3 linked regions of the Homo sapiens genome follow. The protein of the gene in region 3 purifies or fractionates together with the protein of the main gene of each other region. This does not show direct contact. Each region holds a gene or a part of one and is shown on either strand. Other genes may lie near its edges.

Region 1 (7,028 bases), on a different chromosome or scaffold from region 3:
GCCCTTACTAGTTATCAAATCTTGAGCAAGTCACTAACTCTATCTTTATAAGCCTCTCTTTCCTCATCTGTAAAACTGGGGTGATGCCAGCTACATCACAAGGTTGTTAGAAGTGTTAATGATAATTTATGTAAAGTTCTTTATTAGTGCCTGGCATAGGGTATGCCCTCAATAAATAAGAGTTACTTTAATTATCACCATTATAATCATTATTATTAGAGGCAATTATATTTATAGATGATACATTTTGAATAAAAAGAACAGCCAGGCACAGTGGCTCATGTCTGTAATCCCAGCACTTTGGAAAGCCAAGGCAGGCAGAATACTTGAGTCCAGGAGCCAGGGCAATATGGAAAAACCCCATCTCTACAAAAATACTAAAAGAAAATTAGCCAGGCATGGTGGTGTGCACCTGTGGTCCCAGCTACTCAGGAGGCTAAGGTGGGAGGGTCACTTGAGCCTGGGAGGTGGAGGTTGCAGCGAGCCGAGATCGCACCATTGCACTCCTGGGTGACAGCATCTCAAAGAAAAAACAGTCAAAAAAAAACCCAAAAAAACCAGCAAAGGAAAAAAAGCCTGCTAGGTTTTCTGTTGATATATTTATACTGAGAAATTTCATTTGTGATAGGAAAATCAGGTCAAACAGGGTCAATTCACGGTAAATTTAATTACATATAACTTTAAAGCTATACACACACATTCAAAGCCCAGGGAACCACTTTAATTACTGAAAGTGTTTATTTTAATGAACAAGCTTAACTGAATTTCCAAATGAGGTAAAATTGAAGAGACACTATTTTAAATACATTTACATTCTGCCTAAATGGCCAGATTTCCACACATGAGAAACAGATTAGAGCAACAGGCATCAGGCAGAGGTAGAAAGTAGTTGGCTACTAGCAAGTCACTGGTCCCTTAAATGTACAGAAGCACCAAGCCAAGCCATCTGAAAGTCAGGCATCAAGATTTTTAACTATCTGCTATGTGAGAAACACAGAGTGCACCATCTGTGGAGGTTCTTATATTTTTTGACTATGACTCACTGTAAGAAATACTTTTACACTGCAACCAGCACACATGCACACATAAATGAACCAGGATTTTATGAAACAATATTTAACCACTTTATGAGCAACGTACATATGCTCATAATTCAAAAATCAGTTTTATGGCCCACTAATGGGTATGAAAGCAGCATGAAAAATACTGGTTTATGTCCCTGAGAGCAGGCATCCTTAGCTGGATTCCATATATTGATATTTTATGTAAAATTTTGTGCATACACATATTCTCTGGGAAGAAAAGCTATAGCTTTACTCAGAATCTCAAGGGGGGGTCTGTGGCTTAAAAAAAGTTTAAAGCCTACTGAGCAATCATGGCATGAATCTCCAACACTGTATAACATAATGTGTTAGATTTTAGAGTCCCATTCCATACAAGTAATTTTCTCAAATTTAAAGAGGATATAAAAGGCTTGGCCATCACAGCATATATAAAATCTGGAAAACATGTTTAAAATGCATTTTATTTATTTTTGTTCTTTTATTTCAATTCTCAAAGAGGAATAAAATGCATTTTCAGAAGAAGAAAACCCTGAAAATTCAAAAGTCTAATATTACAAGAAATGTTGTATTTACAAGGCATTCACTTCTTGCTTAAAAAAATAGTCATGTTTGAAATAATACTTCCTTATATGGACCAAAGTTTCCTTCTTAAGCAAAAATTCGATTCTGATAACTTAGCCACATTCTATCTTTAAACATGATAAATACTGATCTCAAAAAAAAATCAGAAAGTGAAATGTTCAAAACTGCAAGCTTCCCAATATGTACACAGGGGGGAAGTTCCTGAATTACAGGTGATGGGTGGAGAAGGTGTAAAGGCAGTAGATCGAAGTAAACTTGAGGAGCACAAGGTGCTATGAATCCTGAAATACCTGACAAAACGTCTCCAAAACTGCAGCAGTCAGCTAAATGCTCATGATTCCATGCTTTTACACATTTCAAAATTTCAGCATTTTTAAAGAATGTATTTTAGAATTTACAATGGGATACAGAATGTGAAATTTACTTTGTAACCTTAATCATAATTTTTAATATATATTTTACTTTGTTTTGATTAGTCAAAATCAGGTATGTAAAAAGTTGACCTTATATCAACATTATGATCCAATTTTAAAGTAGGAAAATCATAACAAAATATTTTCTAATTAGATCAAAAAGACACTCTGTGATCCACTGCTAGAATGGCACCTGTGTCGAGCCACCCCACTTTTCTCTTTTGCTGCCCCAGCAGCTCCAGTGCAGCCAGTGGCAGGCTCTCCTGCCCATAGCCTACCTGTCTTTCCAGCTGCACGTACTACTAGGCAGACTCTACTCACTTTTCCCAGTCATGTCTTGCCGTGATTCAAAGTCAAAAACACTTGCTTTCCTCATGAATGCTGCCTAACACAAGAAGGAAGCTGGGCTTTCCTCACTCACTTCGCACAATGCATAATACAGGCAGTACTATGCCTTGTCATGCTGAAGAGACTCTCATTCCTGTATGAAATGGAAGGCCCAGGGCACCTTGGAACATTATAGATGAAGGGATCTCAGTGATCAGTCTGAGGAATCTTAGGCCCAAAGAGACTGAGTTGCTCAAGGTCACATGCCTAATGGCTTAGCTAGAATTGGAATCCAGGCCTCCTGACATAAAGAAGCCACAACTCTTCCTATTTCAAAAAATGCTGAGTAAGTGGGTGATGAGATCCAATTTCTTCAGAATGACCATAGAAGCCTAAATGAAAGATAATTTCCAGAGATATCAGATACAGGTGAGACTTTCTGAACAAACAACACCTTCTCACTTAATTGGGGGATTTTTAGACCTTTAAATATGCATCAATTTAAGTGGAATAATAATAATTTTCTAAATCAGATTTAGAGAAGCACAGCTATCCACAGAGGAAAAAGCCACCGTCATGTCTTACATCCATCAGCAGGGGAAGGCGGGTCACCCTCTGCATGGGGAGAATGAGAAAAGAGATCATGGGTAAGTTCCTACAGTCTTCATGGGACTCAATCCTTGACAATACTTCCTTAAAGGATGGATTGGTAGCTCTGAGGGAAAACAAAGAAAAGAGAAACTTCAAAATATTTCCTCCTCAAATTAAGCAGCAAGTAAAAATGTATTACAAAATACTGTGATAAATCCATATAGCATCAACTATTTTAAACTGTATGAAAATATCATAAGCACATAATTACACTGGCAAATACGAATGGCTTGTCTGCCTTTTATATTCAAGGCTGAATATAATAAGATGTGGATTTCACATAACAGTATTAACAATAAGGCAAAACATGTAGGAGCTAGAAATTTATACAAGTGGAAGGTAAGCAAATGAAGAAGCTGTGGTATCATAATGGTGAATATATGGGTCATAAATCAGTATACAGACTAGGTCTTTTATATCCGATCATCTATAAACATATATCATTAATAAGATCATAAATAATATGTTTTAAGCCACTTCTCCAGCCCTAGACAATGGCATAAGAAATTAACAGTTAGACTGGACTTCAGAGGCTTTAGGCCACAAAGATCCTCTTTCTGAGACAGAAAACCTTTTCATCACATCAGTCGAAATATTCCTCTTTTTCTCCTGTTAATGCAAGAAAAGTATTAATGCTGCTATAACATTTTAATGAAACTTAGCGAGATACTGTGACATACATTCTTTCATGTGGAACCACCTACGTAACTTTTAAGGAAGGCCAGATAGGGATTCCAGTAAGAAAATGGAATGCAGAAAGGTCCCTACCTCACCAAGTAAATATGACTTAGTAACTGCCAAAGACAGAAGTCAAACCCAGGTTTGTTTGTTTGTTTGTTTGTTTTGAGATGGAGTCTTGCTCTATCACCTAGGCTGGAGTGCAATGGCACAATCTCGGCTCACTGCAGCCTCTGCCTCCCAGGTTCAAGCAATTCTATGCCTCAGCCTCACAAGTAACTGGGATTACAGGTGTGTGCCATGACGCCCAGCTAATTTTTGTATCTTTAGTAGAGAAAAGGTTTCATGTTGGCCAGGGTAGTCTCGAACTCCTGGCCTCAAGTAATCCACCTGCCTCGGCCTCCCAAAGTGGTGGGATTACAGGCGTGAGCCACTGTGCCTGGCCTCAAACCCAAGTTTTCTAATGTTAAATCTGACACTCTTGTCCCCCCATTTCTCACTCTCTTACCTCACTTCATCCCATGAGGAGCTCTGTAGAGTTCCACTGCCACTTTCCAAGGCAAGGAGGGTAGGAGGTAGATGGATATTGTACTCCCATGAAGGGAGAAGGAAGCAGGATAGTGACAATAGCAGTCATTTTTTTTAAAAAAAATGTTATTTTGAAAATTAAATAATCTTGTTCAAGGCTGCTACTAAAAGCAGGGAGGGGGAGAATGCCAGAATAGCAAATGAAAAGAAATTATACAGAAACAATTCATTTCCATTTTCTCTAATTGAGAAGTTTTAAGTTTCCTTTTACTGATAGCTTTGACAAGATTTTTAGAAAGTTAAAAAAAAAAAACAAAAACCTCTAAATTAGTTGTATATTTAAATAACTCAGGTCCCAGTCCCCTCCCTCACCTTCCAAAGGTTCTGATTAAATAGTCTGGGATGGACTCTGGACAGTGTACATTTGCTCATTTTCAGGCCCCAAGGCATTTCTAACATGCAGCTAGAATTGAAAGCCACTGTTCTAACCTTAAATTCACATAAACTGCGGGCTGGGCGCAGTGGCTTACGCGTGTAATCCCAGCACTTTGGGAGGCAGAGACAGGTGGATCACGAGGTCAGGAGATCAAGACCATCCTGGCTAATACGGTGAAACCCAGTCTCTACTAAAAATACAAAAAATTAACTGGGTGTGGTGGCATGCACTTGTAGTCCCAGCTACACGGGAGGCTGAGGCAGGAGAATCGCTTGAACCTGGGATGCAGAAGTTGCAGTGACCCAAGATTGCGCCACTGCACTCCAGCCTGGGTGACAGAGTGAGACTCCATCTCAAAAAAAAAAAAAAAAAAAAATCACATCAACTGCAACAAATCCCCTGAAAACACTACTAATTGCCACGTGAAAGTGCTGATGATGTTATCATTAAGCTAATTTAGATAAAACCTTTAAGAGTCACATGATGTATAGCAGTACCTAGTGACATTTTTTAAATCCTGCAAAACAAAATGAAACCCAAATTTATCTCTAATTCAAGGCTTTGTTTTCAGACATGAACTTGCATTCTCTAACAGTTACAGAGAACCTCTGTTCCTATAGCAGCGGTTCCCACCAGGGCGTGGTGGAGTGAGGAAGTGATGGGTGTGGTTTTACCCTCAGGGGACCTTCTGCAATGTCTGGGGAGATTTTTGGCATCTAGCAGATGGAAGCCAGGGATGCCCTTAAGCATCTTAAAATGCATAGGACAGCCCACCACAAAGACTTATCCAGTCCAAAATGTCAATTGTGCGAACAAACCCTGCTTTATACTAAAAATCTCATTGGGGTTAGCAGCTGTGTGTTTTCCACCCTGGCTATATGAAAATGTCATGAAGATGTGGAGGAAAAAGGGGGCCATCATCAGCCCTTCTCATCAGCTTAGAGGCTTTGACTATTTCTCCAAGCAGCCATAAGTTAGTCATCCTCAACCCCTACTCCTCCATAGGGGTCTCACATATTGCACAGAAGTTGACCGAAGCTCCATGCCGTGGTCATAAATGCCACAACTCACAGGAGGGGGTGAGAACGATAACAGCCATTAAGCTCCCAAACTGGGTTTACAGCAGTGCACAACTGTGCTGTAAAACAGCTACTTGTGATAAACAGGACTCTTTAAAATACATATAGGCATTACTGAACAATTGGTGACTCTTTTAAGGACACAGATGGCATATGCATCACATCAAAACTCTCAGTAACCTAAAAAGGACAAAAAGAAAAGATGTGGCAGGAAATCTAATGCTTAACTCTTTTGCTGCATAACTGAAATCTTTAAGAACATTACTTTTTTCTACTGCTTTCCTTCAGAACTTCCCTCCTCTCTTCAACTCTAACTACCCAAGTGGGGGGAATAATCAGCAATTTTTATGAACAATTTATTATCGTTGTCAATTGAATGGAGGGAGATCAGAATAGTAGAGAAAACTCTGAATCTTAGCTTTTAGCTCAATCAACTCAAGAATCCCCTCTAAGCCTCAGGAAAACCACTTAATTGCCAGTAAAAAGCTTAGAAAACTGCGGGTTTAGAGTGAGGACCACCTCTGTTTCCTGCAACAATTAAAAACAACGAAACACTAAACAAGGACATCAATAACAAGCTATAATTTCGTAAGAGAGAAAATTCTCTACACACTAGATTTTTCTACTTAAACACCCTCACCCTAAAAGTAATGCTCTTAAACATTTCTCCTCTGGGAAATAGCCTATCAGGAGGCATTTCTAAATATAATTCAAAAGATCAATTAATTTCAGTCAATGTAGCCTAATTAAAACTAGGTTAGATGATTAAAACTGTAGCATTCGACATTGCTTACAACAATTTTTGTAGTGTTCGTTGTTGGTAGACTTCATTTGTGCAGTATTTCACATATGGGTCAAATGTGGATGCTGTGTGTTTTTCCACAATGTCACTTATGTCATCTATGAAGATATTATTCTGATGTCTTGCTTCCAACTCTATAAAGAACCTGAAAAACCAAAGGGAAAAAAAAATTAACACTTCTTTCATACACTCTAACAGATAACAGATTAGCCTCATGTAATGTTATTACACGGGGTTTGAAAATTCAACAGTACACAGTACCAACTAAAAAATATTTTTAAAATCTATAAAAATTTTATCTAAGTTTAAATCTATCATATTAACACCTCCTTGAGGATGAGCATTGTGGCTCACGCCTATAATCTCAGCACTTTGGGAGGCTGAGGCAGGAAGATCACTTGAGGCCAGGAGTTCAAGACAAGACAAAACCAAAAAAAAAAAAAAAAAAATCAAGTTATTGCTTCAAGT
Region 2 (7,028 bases), on a different chromosome or scaffold from region 3:
TTTGTAGACAGGGCTTGCTCTGTTGCCCAGGCTGGATGCAGTGGTGTGATCACAGCTCACTGTAGCCTCAACCTATCAGGCCCAGGTGACCCTCCTATCTTACCCTCCCGAGTAGCTGGGACTATAGGCACATGTCGTCATGCCAAGCAATTTTTTTTAAGTTTTAGTAGAGATGGGATTTTGCCATGTTGCTCAGGCTGGTCTTAAATTCCTGAACTCAAGCCATCTACCCGCCTTGGCCTTCCAAAGTGCTTGGATTACAGGCGTAAGCCACTGTGCCCAGCCAATGTGTTACCTTTTATAGGATGCTGTTATAGGGCAGGGTGCATTTGTGCTGGGGTTAACAATCTTGTCCCATGACTAGCTCATGAATCTATGGGGCCAGGCAGGCCCAGAAGCAGTGCTCTGGCAACTGCCATATTGAAATAAGCCCTGGTTATGGTCACCAGGGAGCATGAGCCCTTGGACAACTCTGAAGGTACAGGGTGCTCTGGAGCTAGGGTGGCCAGTCACCCCAGTGTACCCAGGACTGAGGTTCTTGAAATGCAGGGCTTTCAATGGTGAAACAGGGTTGCCTCACCTACATGGTGAGTCTGCAGCCACTCCACTCAGCACCGGATATGCTCTGTAATGCACATGGCAGAGGCCAAGGGAATACCTTGGTCATAGGCAGAGAGGGACTGGCACCTCACTGTAAACACACAGCATCATGCCCAGTAAGGGTTTAACCTGCTGACCTGATGTGGGCAAAACAGCAGAATGGCAAGGTGCATATTCATGACATGGCTCACCTGAACACACCAGCCTACAACACTTTGAGAATGATGAAAAGATAGAACATCAAATCTGTTTAGGGTTACGCCATTCCCATATGAGAGGAAAAAGAACAGCTGCACTTGCCTTTGGTTCCAACATGTTGGGCATAGACACTCCTCGGTCCATTCTCATTGCAGGCATGTGGCCATCTGGGAGTGTCTGCAACAGAAATGCCAGTTCCAGGTGAGGCATGAAATAGTCTAGGAAACTGAAGGGAGTACTCTTGGGCTCCCAATTCCCTGTTGGGTCTCCAATCCTAACCACTATTTTATTTGTGTCATCTAAATGACCATGTATTTTTCAAAATGAGATCCTTGCTGTATAGGAACAGGAATACAGCTCTTTTGCAATCAAGTTGGGGAGAGATCTTGGCTTGATGGTTATGGACAAATTCCTGAATTAGGCTCCATGAATGAAAGCATATAGTACATTTAAAAGATGCCCAAGTCTATTATTGTTAGTTTCTTATCTTTAATCATGATTTTCTATGCATTTTTCTTCTTTTCTTATTCTCCATCACATTTCTTTCTTTCTTTTTTTAACAAGATTGAGGTTCTAGTGAGAAAGGAATGTCATGAGGGCAAACTGCTCTCTCCTATTGGCTAAGACATCAGTGTCTTTTCATTTGAGAACGCGCAGGAAAAGGGTGGCCTAAAGTACTGAGAGATTATAATTAAAAGAAGAAAAACTGTATATGAGCAGACCCTTGATGCTGGTCCACTTCCACCCCAGAGAGGACTCTCCAAGGCCAAAGCAAGAGAGACCCCCTACACCTGGCCTGGTTCATGCAGTGTCCCCAAGGCCTGCAGGGACAGCTTGACCCAGGCACCAGGCATGTCTGCTCTTCACGGCTATAGAGTAATGACTAGAGAGATCAACCACAACAAGCATCTTCTCAACAGAAACTGTTGCCTTGGAGCCAGCAGTCTGGGTTGGAACATGGCTGTTCTATCGGTGTGGCCAATTCAAGAAAGACAAAGTGTTCCATACCTGGTAATCTGAAAAGGAAAGGAAAAGAAAATATCATAAGGGAAAGACCATGGAAAAGCAAGGAACCATTCACAGACTATATTATATTGAAATTCCCAACATATTCGCCCTATAAACCATGTTCTTTTTCTGCTCCCAGACTCTGCACATGTTATCCCATCAGCCTCCCTGAAGCCAAGAAATGCCTGGTCCAGTGTTAGTTAACAGTTAAAACATTTTCCCCTGGAAGCTTTCGCTGACAACCTAAAGGTACTTACTGCTTCCTTCTCTGCATCTCTGATCCCAATGTTCATCACACAGACCTTCTTTCTGCCATATGCATTTTGAGGGCAGGGGCCATGTCTCACTTATTGTTGTACCTCCAGTTACTTTTTTTTTTTTTAAGAGACAGTCTTGCTCCGTCACCCAGGCTGGAGTGCAGTGGCATGAACATAGCTCACTGCAGCCTTGAACTCCTGGGCTTAAGCAATTCTCCTGCCTCAGCCTCCCAAGTAGCTGGGACTACAGGCATGTGCCACCAGCTAATTATTATAATTTGTTGTTGTTGTTTTTGTTGTTGTTGGTAGAGACAGGCCCACTTTGTTGCCCAACCTAGTCTAGAACTCCTGGCTTCAAGTAATCCTTCCGCCTCAGCCTCCCAAAGTGTTGGGATTGCAGGCATGAGCCACCATGCCTGGCCTCTAGGTATCTGATAGAGTGCTCAGCACATAGTATGAGCAATGAATAAATTCTCACAAACTCACTTCTTACAGTTTGATTTCATTAGATATTCTTTGAAATTTTGTAAATAATTGCCCTATTAGCTCACAGAAGACAGATGTGATCCTACTCTAAGGATACAATACAGCATGAACACAGCCAGTATACTTGACTCTCATGAACCTCAGCCTCGAGGGAAGACGTGGCCATGCTCAGCCTGGCCATGGGAGCCTCACCTCGCACTCCCCCGCTGACATCCCCATAGCTGTTATACTGAGCGAAGTCGGTAGAAACAGGCTGAAATGAGGAAAAACAATTATTAGGAAATCTCCATAGTGATCGTTTTGGAGTCAGGTGAAAAGGAAGAAAGAGTTTACAAAATCCTAGGAATTCTTCCCAAGCTAAATGTCAGACCTTCATTTTTTTTTTCCCTATGATTCTTCTACTGCTATGCCATCTCTTTGTCTTTTTTAGTGTACTAATGCCACCACTCAGCAGGCTCTTGGTAAGCAGGGATCTCTTGCTGATAAATAAAAATGCATTGTCCTACATAGTTACATAATTGTATTTGTTCCATCTTTTGTGAGGAGGATGGTTATAACACACATTCTTATATCTTTTTACAGCAAAGATAATGGTTCAAGTAATTACTTTTTGTTTCATTGTAAAAAATATTTGCCATACAGTTTTGCAATTTAGTTTTCCCATAATCATACACAAGCCATTCTTTTATCTAAAGTTAATTTCTTCTTCTCTCAATAGAAACATTTTATTTTGCCTGTAACTCAAATTAATTTACTAGGCAACCAGGGAGGTTAAAATTTTCATTATGTTCCAACACTGAGATCAAGAGTCAGACGTATTCAGGCAATGTGTCAATACTTCAACCAGGGCCGAGGTGGGAGTAAAGGCAGAAACAATGAATCGGGGAGAAATCTTACCCGGTGAAGCCCATTTCTTCCATAGCCAGGGAGAGATGCAGTTTTAGATGATGGAATATGTGAAGCTGAGTAAGAAAAAAGTAAAAAACCAATTGTTAGGAAATCAGAAGGTCCAATCCTTTAATGAAATTGGCAGTATCTTCTACCTCACAGGATAGAAATACCAAAAAAATTCAAATCATATTGGGCTCAAATGTTCAAAAATATGCCATCATATTTGCAAGGAGTGGGTGGACAGTGATATGACTGAGGAGGGAAGGGAAAGTCAAGTCCACGCGGTTGAGTGGGGGCTGAAGCTGGCTGTGCTTCCTATAGCTCTGGCATGGAGCTAAGTGTTCAGCATGCTTTATTTCTTTGAATCTTCAATATAACCCTAATAACACTATGATTATTAGTTCCATATTACAGAAGGAGAAATAGGGGCTAAGAAAAATATCCTGCCAACAGTTACTAAGCTTCTAAACAGCTGAGCAAGGATGTAAATCAGGGATATCTGAATACATTAGCCCATGCCCCAGTTGATAAGGCAGCAGTAACTGAACTGGAAGCCAACCCTGTATGTTATCAAGATCTACCAGCCATCTACAGCTGGCCTCCTGGGAGGCCTGATACAGGGTATCTGTCAATGATATGGAAGCCTGATAAGCTGCTGGGCTTGAGAGGGAGCAGCCCTGGGCTTGAATTCTGGTTCTGCAACTTAATACCTCTGTATCTCCGGACATGGTGTTTAATCTTTCTGAAGTCCTCATTTCTTCATCTATGCAGGTACAATGTTATACATTCTTATAGAGCAGAATCTCAGAATTCCAAGGAACTCTAAAGATTTGTAAACCACCGAATCCAAGATCAATGCCAGTGAGGCATCTATGAAGGGTAGCGGGAATTCCAGGTAAGGGTGTGGGCTCCGGGGTTATAATATGTGGACTTCTAAATCCTAGTCTTGCTAGTTATTGGCGTATCACGCTGGGTATGTTAACTCAATTTCTATACCAGCCTCCTGATTTCTAAAATAGAGATGAAAATGCTGCAGTTGCTAATAACAACCACATCTACTTCACTGGCATGTTGTGAACATTAAATAAAATGTTTAGCAAAAATGCTTGCATGGAGTGAACATTAAATGCATTTTTTTTTTTTGAGACAGAGTCTCACTCTCACCCAGGCTGGAGTGCAGTGGCGCAATCTTGGCTCAATGTAAGCTCAGCTTTCTGGGTTCACGCCATTCTCCTGCCTCAGCCTCCCGAGTAGCCGGGACTGCAGGAGCCCGCCACCACACCTGGCTGATTTTTGTATTTTTTAGTAGAGACGGGGTTTCACTGTGTTAGCCAGGATGGTCTCGATCTCCTGACCTTGTGATCTGCCCGCCTTGGTCTCCCCACTAAATGCATTTTTAAAGGAACTCTTAGAGGAGAAAATTATGCTCTAGCTCAGAATATGAGAGAAGAAATCTTGTGGTTTAAGAGAGAATTGGCTTATGACAAATAGATACAGGGGAAAATACACTGATAGGCTATTTCAGCCCAGTGTATAAGTCATCTTCTTCAAAAGTATCAAAAACACTGTTCATCCTCAGTTCTTGTATTGAAGATTTTTTTTCTTTTTTTTTTTGAGATGGAGTTTCACTCTTGTCGCCCAGGCTGGAGTGCAATGGTGTGATCTCAGCTCACTGCAACCTCCACCTCCCAGGTTCAAGTGATTCTCCTGCCTCAGCCTCCCGAGTAGCTGGGATTACAGGAGCCCACCACCACGCCTGGCTAATGTCTGTATTTTTAGTATAGATGGGGTTTCGCCACGTTGACCAGGCTGGTCTCAAACTCCTGACCTCAGGTGATCCGCCTGCCTTGGCCTCCCAAAGTGCTGGGATTACAGGCATGAGCCACCGCACCCGGCCTCTATTGAAGATATTAATGTAAAATCATAATGCTTAGAAAATGTCTTATTCATGTTATCTAAAAAAAAAAAAAAAAAAAAAGAAGAAGAAGAAAAGCATCATGTTTTTTAGAGGATTTCCTTTTGCTGCTTCCCTTGGAGATGAGTGTTCTAGAAGACAAACCTAGTATATGGGGATTGGCCTTCATGGATTTTGAGAACCTCCAAGGGTTCACCCATTTCCAGAAGAAAGGAAACACACATTTATGGAAGACCCATGACATGCTTATGAGCTCATTTGACATGGAGTGGGTTTCCCACACTTCCTTTCCCGTGGAATACTCTGTAGGTTCCACCACAAGTGAACAGTCAAGGCAGGTGCCTTACAAGCAGGTGGCTGGCTCTCGAATCAGGGAAGGTTGGGGGTTTGCTGCTTACCTGAGTTGATGGGAGAATCGTAGCGACTGGCTAACAGAGATGACCTTTCCCGGCTCTCTTTCTCCATCTCTTCTTTCAAGATCAACTGTCCCAGGCCTGAGTTAAGCTATTCACAGAAAAAAGGAAAAAAAAAAAAAAAAGAAAGCAAAGCTTGCAATTACTTTCATGGAGCTGCAGTTTCTTTGTAGCAGATCCCACAAGAAGTTTCTCTTGCTGGAGGGCCTGAATGCATGTGGCCCCAGAGCCTGGTAGTTCCTGAAGAGGTAGGTCAAGTTTGGGACCCTAAACCCTCTTAGCCCTTTCAGTTTCAAAGCTCCATTTCCCTAAGTCAGGCTCTGTGTTAGAAGAACGTTTTCCTTCCTCTGCTTTCCCTAAAGAGCCAGGAGACCTCAGAAGGCATGTGTGAGTGTGTGTGGATTTTTGATGTGGGAAGGGAAGACTGGGGCTGGTATCCTTTAAAAAGAAATTGCCTTGATTTGTTTAAAAACAAGAAATAAAGGTAATACATGCTAATTTTACAGATTTTGGAAAATCTAGAAGAAAAGAAGAGTAACCCATAATATGTCACTCAGAAATAACACTATCTTTTGATTTATATCTATCTAGTATTTTTGTATACACACATATAAAACTGAGATCATACTATAAATGCAACTTTGTATCCTTTGACTAATATCACGTGCATTTCCTATATGCTTAGAAAACATCATTTGAAAGGATTCAGCAGCCTCTTGACTGATAACAGACTGTCCTTCTGGGCTGCTGCAGGCCCTTGCTACAGGAAGGAGGGTATGAAGAGGACCCCTTCATGGTGGCCATTCCTTTCATTCCTTTTCTCCTGGCCCACATCCTGGGAAAAGACTTGGAGAAATGTTCAATCCCACAGTCATTCCTTCAGCAGAACTGCATGAGGGAAGGAAGGTGTGGCACTACCTGGGTGGATACCACCTTGCTCTGCCTGGCCCTCCAGCAGCCTTTCAACACATGCACTGCACACATGCCCCCATGTGGTCTCTCTTTCCTTCCCACAACAACCCAAACCTTCCACACCCCTCTGACCTCCAGCACCAATGCCATCTCCTCTAGAGCCCAGCAGGTATTCTGCCATATTCTAGTTACTATTAACAGACACCTGTCTTGCCTTGCCTGCCAGATTTCAAGCCCCTTGAAGACTGGGACCACCTCTTGCCTATCTAGATGGTTTATACATAGTAGTCATTCAAAAAATATAGATCTTATGTAACTAGCATTGAAGACAGCAGCAAGGTAGTTTAA
Region 3 (7,028 bases):
GAAGCTGAGGTGGGTGGATCATGAAGTCAGGAGTTTGAGGCCAGCCTGACCAACAGGGTGAAACCCTGTCTCTACTAAAAATACAAAAATTAGCCGAGCATGGTGGTGGACTCCTGTAATCCCAGCTACTCAGGAGGCTGAGGCAGGAGACTTGCTTGAACCTGGGAGGCAGAGGTTGCAGTGAGTGGAGATTGCGCCACTGCACTCCAGCCTGGGCAACAGAGTGAGACTCCATCTCAAATAAATAAATAAATATCTTTCTTTACTACATTTATTCATAGTTTTCTATCTGCAAACACGAAGAAGGCCATACTAACTCTATAAAGAAAAATTTCCAGTCCTTGAGTGTAACGAAATCAGGAACTTCTACTTAAGTCAAAAGGAAGCAAAGCAATAATAGAATACTGGGCATTGTAGTACCAGGGGTACAAAAACAGTATACCAAAACAGTTTTTGGAAAAATAAAAGTAGAGATAGTTAACAGTGTTATAGCTGACTTCCTGAATCTTCTAAAATGTCTCAATTCATAAAACACTTATCCTCACACTTCTCAGTGAGAATTCCCTAATGTGCTTCATACATTTGTATAAATGTATACAACCTCTTAGGGTTTTTTTTGTTTGTTTGTTTGTTTTTGTTTTGTTTGGTTTTTTGTAGATGGAGTTTCACTCTTGTCACCCAGGCTGGAGTGCAGTGGCACAATCTCAGCTCACTGCAACCTCCACCTCCTGGGATCAAGCGCTTCTCCTGCCTCGGCCTCCCAAGTAGCTGGGATTACAGGCACCCGCCACCATGCCTGGCTAATTTTTGTATTTTTTTTAGTAGAGTTGGGGTTTCACCATGTTGGCCAGGCTGGTCTTGAACTCTTGACCTCAGGTGATCCACCCGCCTCGGCCTCCCAAAGTGCTGGGATTACAGGCATAAGCCACTATTCCCAGCCAATATTTCTTATGATTAATTGGTACCAATGTAACATAACACTTTTGCTTGCTAAGCCCTTTTTTATGTATTTTGTGGTTCAGTTGTTAACTGAACTCATAACTCTTCCTCATAACCCTTATATGGAAGGTACTGTTATTTCCATTGTACAGTGAAAGAAACTGAGACATAAGGACATCATGTAACTTGCCCAAGGTCACACAGGTGGTATTGAGACCAGATTGATAAAGCTAATTGTTTTTATTTTTCTTTTTTGTAAACATAAGTGTTGGAGCTTGTTTGAATTAACAGTGTTAATTAAGTTGAAAAAAAATCAGTTTATTTCATTTGTACTGCTTGTTTTTTGCATTTTTATGGTTGTTTTAAATGTGTCCCTGCCACTAACTGCATCTGCTCTCGAGTGGTTATCTACCTATGTATCATGTTTCTTTCGAGGAATGACCAGTGATTTTACTAGCTTATAGTGCCTTGTACTGTTCAGTGCTTTGGTTACTAATAATAATTAGGTAAATTTTTATTGACTAGTTTCTGACAATATTGCTAGCTTTTCTGAAGCAGTACAATGTTCATGTATCGGTCACATTTGAGTCACAGTCCTTTCCGATGACATTTGGTATTTTGTGTTCAATTTGCCTGTGTTTCTCCAAGGTCTTATTTTATGCTTCTGTAATCTCAGTAGTTTTTCCTATCTACTGTAAAATTTAGTGTTCTTACATTTTACATTCTCACCCTCCATGTGTGTACACACACACAGTCTCCTTCCCACCAAATGTGCAAATTCAATGCTTTTTTTCCCCTCGATTGTCTGTATATTATTTGCCCTTGAGGAATGAATCCTAACTGCCCCACTGTTACATAGGCATTGAGAAAACCCTTGGAGAAAATTATCTGTGTGTGTGTTTAACTCTAGATATTTGTAGAGCAATTGAATTATTGGAAAAACTACAAAGGAGTGGAGAAGTACCACCACAGAAACTTCAGGCTTTGCAAAGAGTCCTTCAAAGTGAATTCTGCAATGCTGTGAGAGAGGTGAGTAAACATCATTAAAATTTACAAAAATTTGAGTTAATTAGGTCAGATAATACTCTAAATTTGGGTTCAACATTTCTTAAGAAAAACTTTAGAAAACATTAAAACCAGTCCCTCTCATTTTTGGAATTTCTGATAAAACCATTTTATAAAGATGCATAACTTTGCCTGAAATTTTAACTTCACAGAGAACTCAAGCATGGTATATTCTGAGATATAACTTTGGCTTTTACAGGTATATGAACATGTCTATGAGACTGTGGACATCAGTAGCAGTCCTGAAGTGAGAGCGAACGCTACTGCAAAGGTAAATTTTTTTGTTTTCCAAAAGTAAGAATTCTTCATAAATTAGAAGTTTAAAATATGGAGTTATTAAATTCATAATAAACTTACTTTGAAGACTAACATGTATCTTTCAAGCTACACCAAATTTCTCAAGTACTAAGAAATAAGACATTTGTTTCTATTGCCTTTACATAAATGCTGCATGATAAATAGCTTACATAAGCTATTTTATCATGCAGTTTAGATAATGCAATAGAAATGTACTTGCATACAATATGTATCATGCAATATATAATTGTGTTGTATATGTTATATATATGATACTATATAATATTCATTATACAAAATCTAATCAGAATTTTAAGATATGAATTACTATCCTCATCTTATTGATGAGGAAGCATGAGGTGATTTGCCGCAAACCACACAAATAGCATATGATAGAGCTGGGGTACTTCCCCGAGTTGATTTTTGCTTTCTTCTTTACATTATCTGCATTTCTGTGCCATTGTTTTCCTCAAATAATTTAGGTATTGACCTCACTATTCATGATAGGGGGTTTGAACAGGGTAATATCAGCAGTCGGTGACTTAAATTAATCATCAGCAGATAGTTTTTTATGGATAGTTACTGGCTCACAAAAGGAAATGGTGGATTCTTTGTTGAATACAAATACTTAAACATGTGGATATAGTTTATCAGTGTAGAAAAGACCAGAGAAACATGGTTTTAATTGCTGAGTTGTGTGAGTTTGATAGCCTACTGAATTTCTGAGCCTTAATTCCATTATCTGAAAAATGAGGCCTTTTTCAGAGCTTCGAAGATAACGGGTATTCAGTAAATCTTGATTTCTTCAAAGATAACGGGTGTTCAGTAAATCTTGATTTCTTTCCTCCTCCCCATTTTTGTGATCCATCACAAAAAAATGGTACTAGATAATTACCCTTTAAAGCAAAGTGAAACAAAATCTCAACTTTATAATTAGTTTGGATTAGTCTAAAGTTGAGCTTTAAAGAAGATACGGCTCTGTTTCATCTTCTGTGGGGATTTTTAGTTGTGTCTAGTTAACTAAAGCAACAAAACATTCAGATTGGCTATATGTACCTCTCTTTTTCTCAATATTGAGTTATTTCTTGACATCTTAGATATTTAGTATATAGTACAAATAGTACAGAAGCCAAAATGATTACATATAAGGGCAACTCCATGTTGATTATATAGGTAGGTTGTGTCCTGCACAAAGGCTCCTGAAGGAGTTGGGAGATCCAGATCTAAAGCCCAGGGCTGCTAGCATGCTGGGGAAGGGGTTTTCCTCCTTACCATGTACAATATCAGTCTGCCCAGTAAGTCTGCTTGCCAAGCCCTGCGCATACAGGACTGCACAAAAGAGTGGGCACTGAATGGGCTAGGAATGACCTAAAAAATCATAACAAAAAATCGTAACATTTCCTGCATAACTCGAAATTATTCATTTGTCGTCTCTAAAATACCTTCTGTTTAGCTTACCTTCTCAGAATCACCAGTGAATTTGTGAGCATTCAGACGTCAAAAATACGTGCTCAAAAGTAGTTTTTAAAAAGAGACAAAAGAGGCCAGGCGCAGTGGCTCACGCCTGTAATCCCAGCACTTTGGGAGGCCAAGGCGGGCGGATCACGAGGTCAGGAGATCGAGACCATCCTGGCTAATGTGGTGAAACCCCATCTCTACTAAAAAAAAATACAAAAAAATTAGCCGGGCGTGGTGGCAGGCGCCTGTAGTCTCAGCTACTCAGGAGGCTGAGGCAGGAGAATGGCGTGAAGCCAGGAGGTGGAGCTTGCAGTGAGCCAAGATCACGCCACTGCACTCCAGCCTGTGCGACAGAGCGAGACTCCATCTCGGGGGGAAACAAAAGATGAAAGAACTGAAGTAAATAAAAGTCATATTTTTAATATGTAAAACTTTCTTTCAGGCTACTGTTGCTGCATTTGCTGCCAGTGAAGGACATTCTCATCCTCGAGTTGTTGAGCTACCAAAAACAGAAGAGGGCCTTGGATTCAATATTATGGGAGGCAAAGAACAAAACTCTCCAATCTATATATCCCGAATAATTCCAGGTGGAATTGCTGATAGACATGGGGGCCTCAAACGTGGAGATCAACTCCTCTCTGTTAATGGAGTGGTAAGGATGAATTTTATTTCTATTTGTAGTGATCTGTTGTGACCACCTGGGGGCGTATTTGAGTAATAGGAGAAACCTAAGAAACTTGTGGTTTAGAAATGCCTTGAGGGAATCCTAGGCAGTACTATTAATACAGTGATCCTTTTTTTTAAGCACTATAAGTGTATTTTGCAGTGTAAATTAGCAGTGCTTAATGTCATTTTTATGACATAAGCTCTTTATTAAAGGCAATACATTAAATTAGAAGTCTACCCTCATTTTACTCTTATAAAATGCCAATTGCTTGATCTACTGAAATAATAAGGCATATAGATTAATATGCTAATTATTTGGAACTTAAAAGCCAGCTTTTAGACTATAAACAGAATATGATGTAAGAGAGGATTTCATATAGATTAAAATGGTAAGGCAGGATTATTTCTTAGTTTTGTAATGTTGGAATAATATAACATTAAAACTTTTCTTCATTATATATATTGTAAACATTTTTGCATTTTGAGTTACTTTCAAAACTTAGATATTAGTGTATGGTTGGTTGTTTTTTTTTCCCCTAGAGTGTTGAAGGAGAACATCATGAAAAAGCTGTAGAACTGCTGAAAGCCGCACAAGGAAAGGTTAAATTAGTGGTACGATACACACCCAAAGTCTTAGAAGAAATGGAGTCGCGCTTTGAAAAAATGAGATCAGCAAAACGCAGGCAACAGACCTAATACATTTCAAAACTTGATATTTCATTTTGCGTTTTAGCTAGAGAAGTTTTCCTTGTGACTTACTAATGGCTGCAATGCCAATGATTGTAAGAAAACAAACAAATTTATCATGAAATTCTCCTTGTCATTTTATAAATGCCTATTTTAACATCATTTATGGTTCCAGAGATGCATACACTTTTTTCTGACAAGAAAAAGTAAAAGGTGATGAGGGCAATTCTGTCCTACTGTTTTTACAGGCCTTTTTCAAATGCAGATTTTGTCATAAAGTTGTTATAGATTTTTTAAAATGCTTTTTTAATATTAAAATGTACTTTTACATTCTTAATCTTTTTTTAGAAAGGAAAAGTTTTCTTCATTTAGCTGCTGATTTAAAAGTAAAGTTCTCCAATTCTTTTTTTTTGCTTACTCTATTTTTTTTAACCTGTGAAATTTCTTTACAGTTTTCCAAGAAATTAAGCATAACAGTCTCATCTACGGCAGTTCATTACACTGTCAATGTTAACATCATTGCTGCATTTTGTACTTTGAACACACACATAATATATATAACCAGTGGTAAATCATGACTCAGTACAGTGCAAGTTTTTTCACTTTTACTTAAACATAATATATAATGGATATTCATTTATACTGATTTATGAAAGTAAGTTTTTAAACACTGAAACAATCATTGCTAAAATACATATTCTTAATATTTGAGCATTGAGGCAAGAGGATGTAATTGATAGCATTACTTATTACATCCCTATTTATGTTCAACCGTACATCAAATTATAAATGCAAAACAGGTTCAGATTTCATCTTTTGTGATTTCTTTTAAATACTATTCATTTTTATTTAAATGCACAGTATTTCCCCTATATTTTAGTCCTTCCATTCCTAGAGACAAACCAGTTATTTGGTGGTGGGAAGTAGCTGAAGCAAAGAAGGAAAAGTAATACCTTTAACCTCACTAGCTTCAAGAGTAGACATTCTTACTAGCTCAATTTAAATAATTGATTTTAAATAGGAAGAAAAGAGGATATATTTAAGATACATAGAAATTATGATGTGAAGTATTCATGAGAATCTGTAGATTCCATCAAAATAAGTAGGAACTCATACTAAAATTGTTGGATTTAAAGAGGCAACTTTTGTTTATGATTCAAATATGGGAATTTGAGAAATATTTCATTTGTCCACTGGATGTCACTATTTTACTAAAAGGCAGCTATTAGTGTGGGACTGTGACTGAGGTCTTAAAGACTGAAAGAGTTGGGGTTCATTTTCTGTTACAACTTACAGGAACATTTGTACTTTAAGAAAAATTTAAGTGACAAATGTTAGAAGATGATGGATTGAAAAATATAAGTAATTTGGCATATTGACCCTATATAAAAAAGTGGGCATTTTGTAACATTCCTTCAGGAAGAATAGAATTGTATGCTTTTTTCTGCATGTTTGTGATCACTGTGAGTCTCAGATGATTATTCCAGTTTTCAATGATTTTTCAAAATAAAAGTCAATCAGCATTGTTATTTATCATTAAGGTATTGAACACTGGATTGCATGGTTGAATGTGTCTTTAATCCACTACAAAATGTGCTTGTTATTGATAGGATCATGTTGTTAAATTGTAAATTTTCAAAATTAATTGATGTTTTAAAAATGTTGAGACCAAAGTAGTATAGAAGTATGGACTTAATTTAATTGTAAAATTATTAGAGGTATTTGTTGTAGAGCTTTATATATTAAAGAGAGGTATTGGTGCATATAAAAACAGTAATATTATTGTTATGCTTGTATTCTTGCATTTCAGGGTAAGTAAACCCTGAAGAAATCTTATTTTAGTATAGCTACAGCTGCAGTAGCTTTTAAGTATGTATCAACATTTCATTATAAATTATAGCTTCCTGGTTCTGTGT

The links.
Region 1: the proteins of LIN7C (region 3) and ARHGEF26 purify together in Homo sapiens (affinity purification with mass spectrometry; 5 studies listed by BioGRID and IntAct, with this or other methods). This does not show direct contact.
Region 2: the proteins of LIN7C (region 3) and ABLIM1 purify together in Homo sapiens (affinity purification with mass spectrometry; 4 studies listed by BioGRID and IntAct, with this or other methods). This does not show direct contact.

The regions. Positions count from the first base shown.
Region 1 is NC_000003.12:154,187,362-154,194,389, reverse strand, and holds part of ARHGEF26 (rho guanine nucleotide exchange factor 26), read right to left. Parts: intron 6,706-7,028; coding exon 6,553-6,705; intron 3,102-6,552; coding exon 2,972-3,101; intron 1-2,971. UniProt on the Homo sapiens protein: Activates RhoG GTPase by promoting the exchange of GDP by GTP. Required for the formation of membrane ruffles during macropinocytosis. Required for the formation of cup-like structures during trans-endothelial migration of leukocytes.
Region 2 is NC_000010.11:114,438,276-114,445,303, forward strand, and holds part of ABLIM1 (actin-binding LIM protein 1), read right to left. Parts: intron 5,860-7,028; coding exon 5,754-5,859; intron 3,512-5,753; coding exon 3,447-3,511; intron 2,803-3,446; coding exon 2,742-2,802; intron 1,815-2,741; coding exon 1,807-1,814; intron 976-1,806; coding exon 901-975; intron 1-900. UniProt on the Homo sapiens protein: May act as scaffold protein. May play a role in the development of the retina. Has been suggested to play a role in axon guidance.
Region 3 is NC_000011.10:27,496,742-27,503,769, reverse strand, and holds part of LIN7C (protein lin-7 homolog C), read left to right. Parts: intron 1-1,849; coding exon 1,850-1,968; intron 1,969-2,203; coding exon 2,204-2,275; intron 2,276-4,201; coding exon 4,202-4,411; intron 4,412-4,965; coding exon 4,966-5,121; 3' UTR 5,122-7,028. UniProt on the Homo sapiens protein: Plays a role in establishing and maintaining the asymmetric distribution of channels and receptors at the plasma membrane of polarized cells.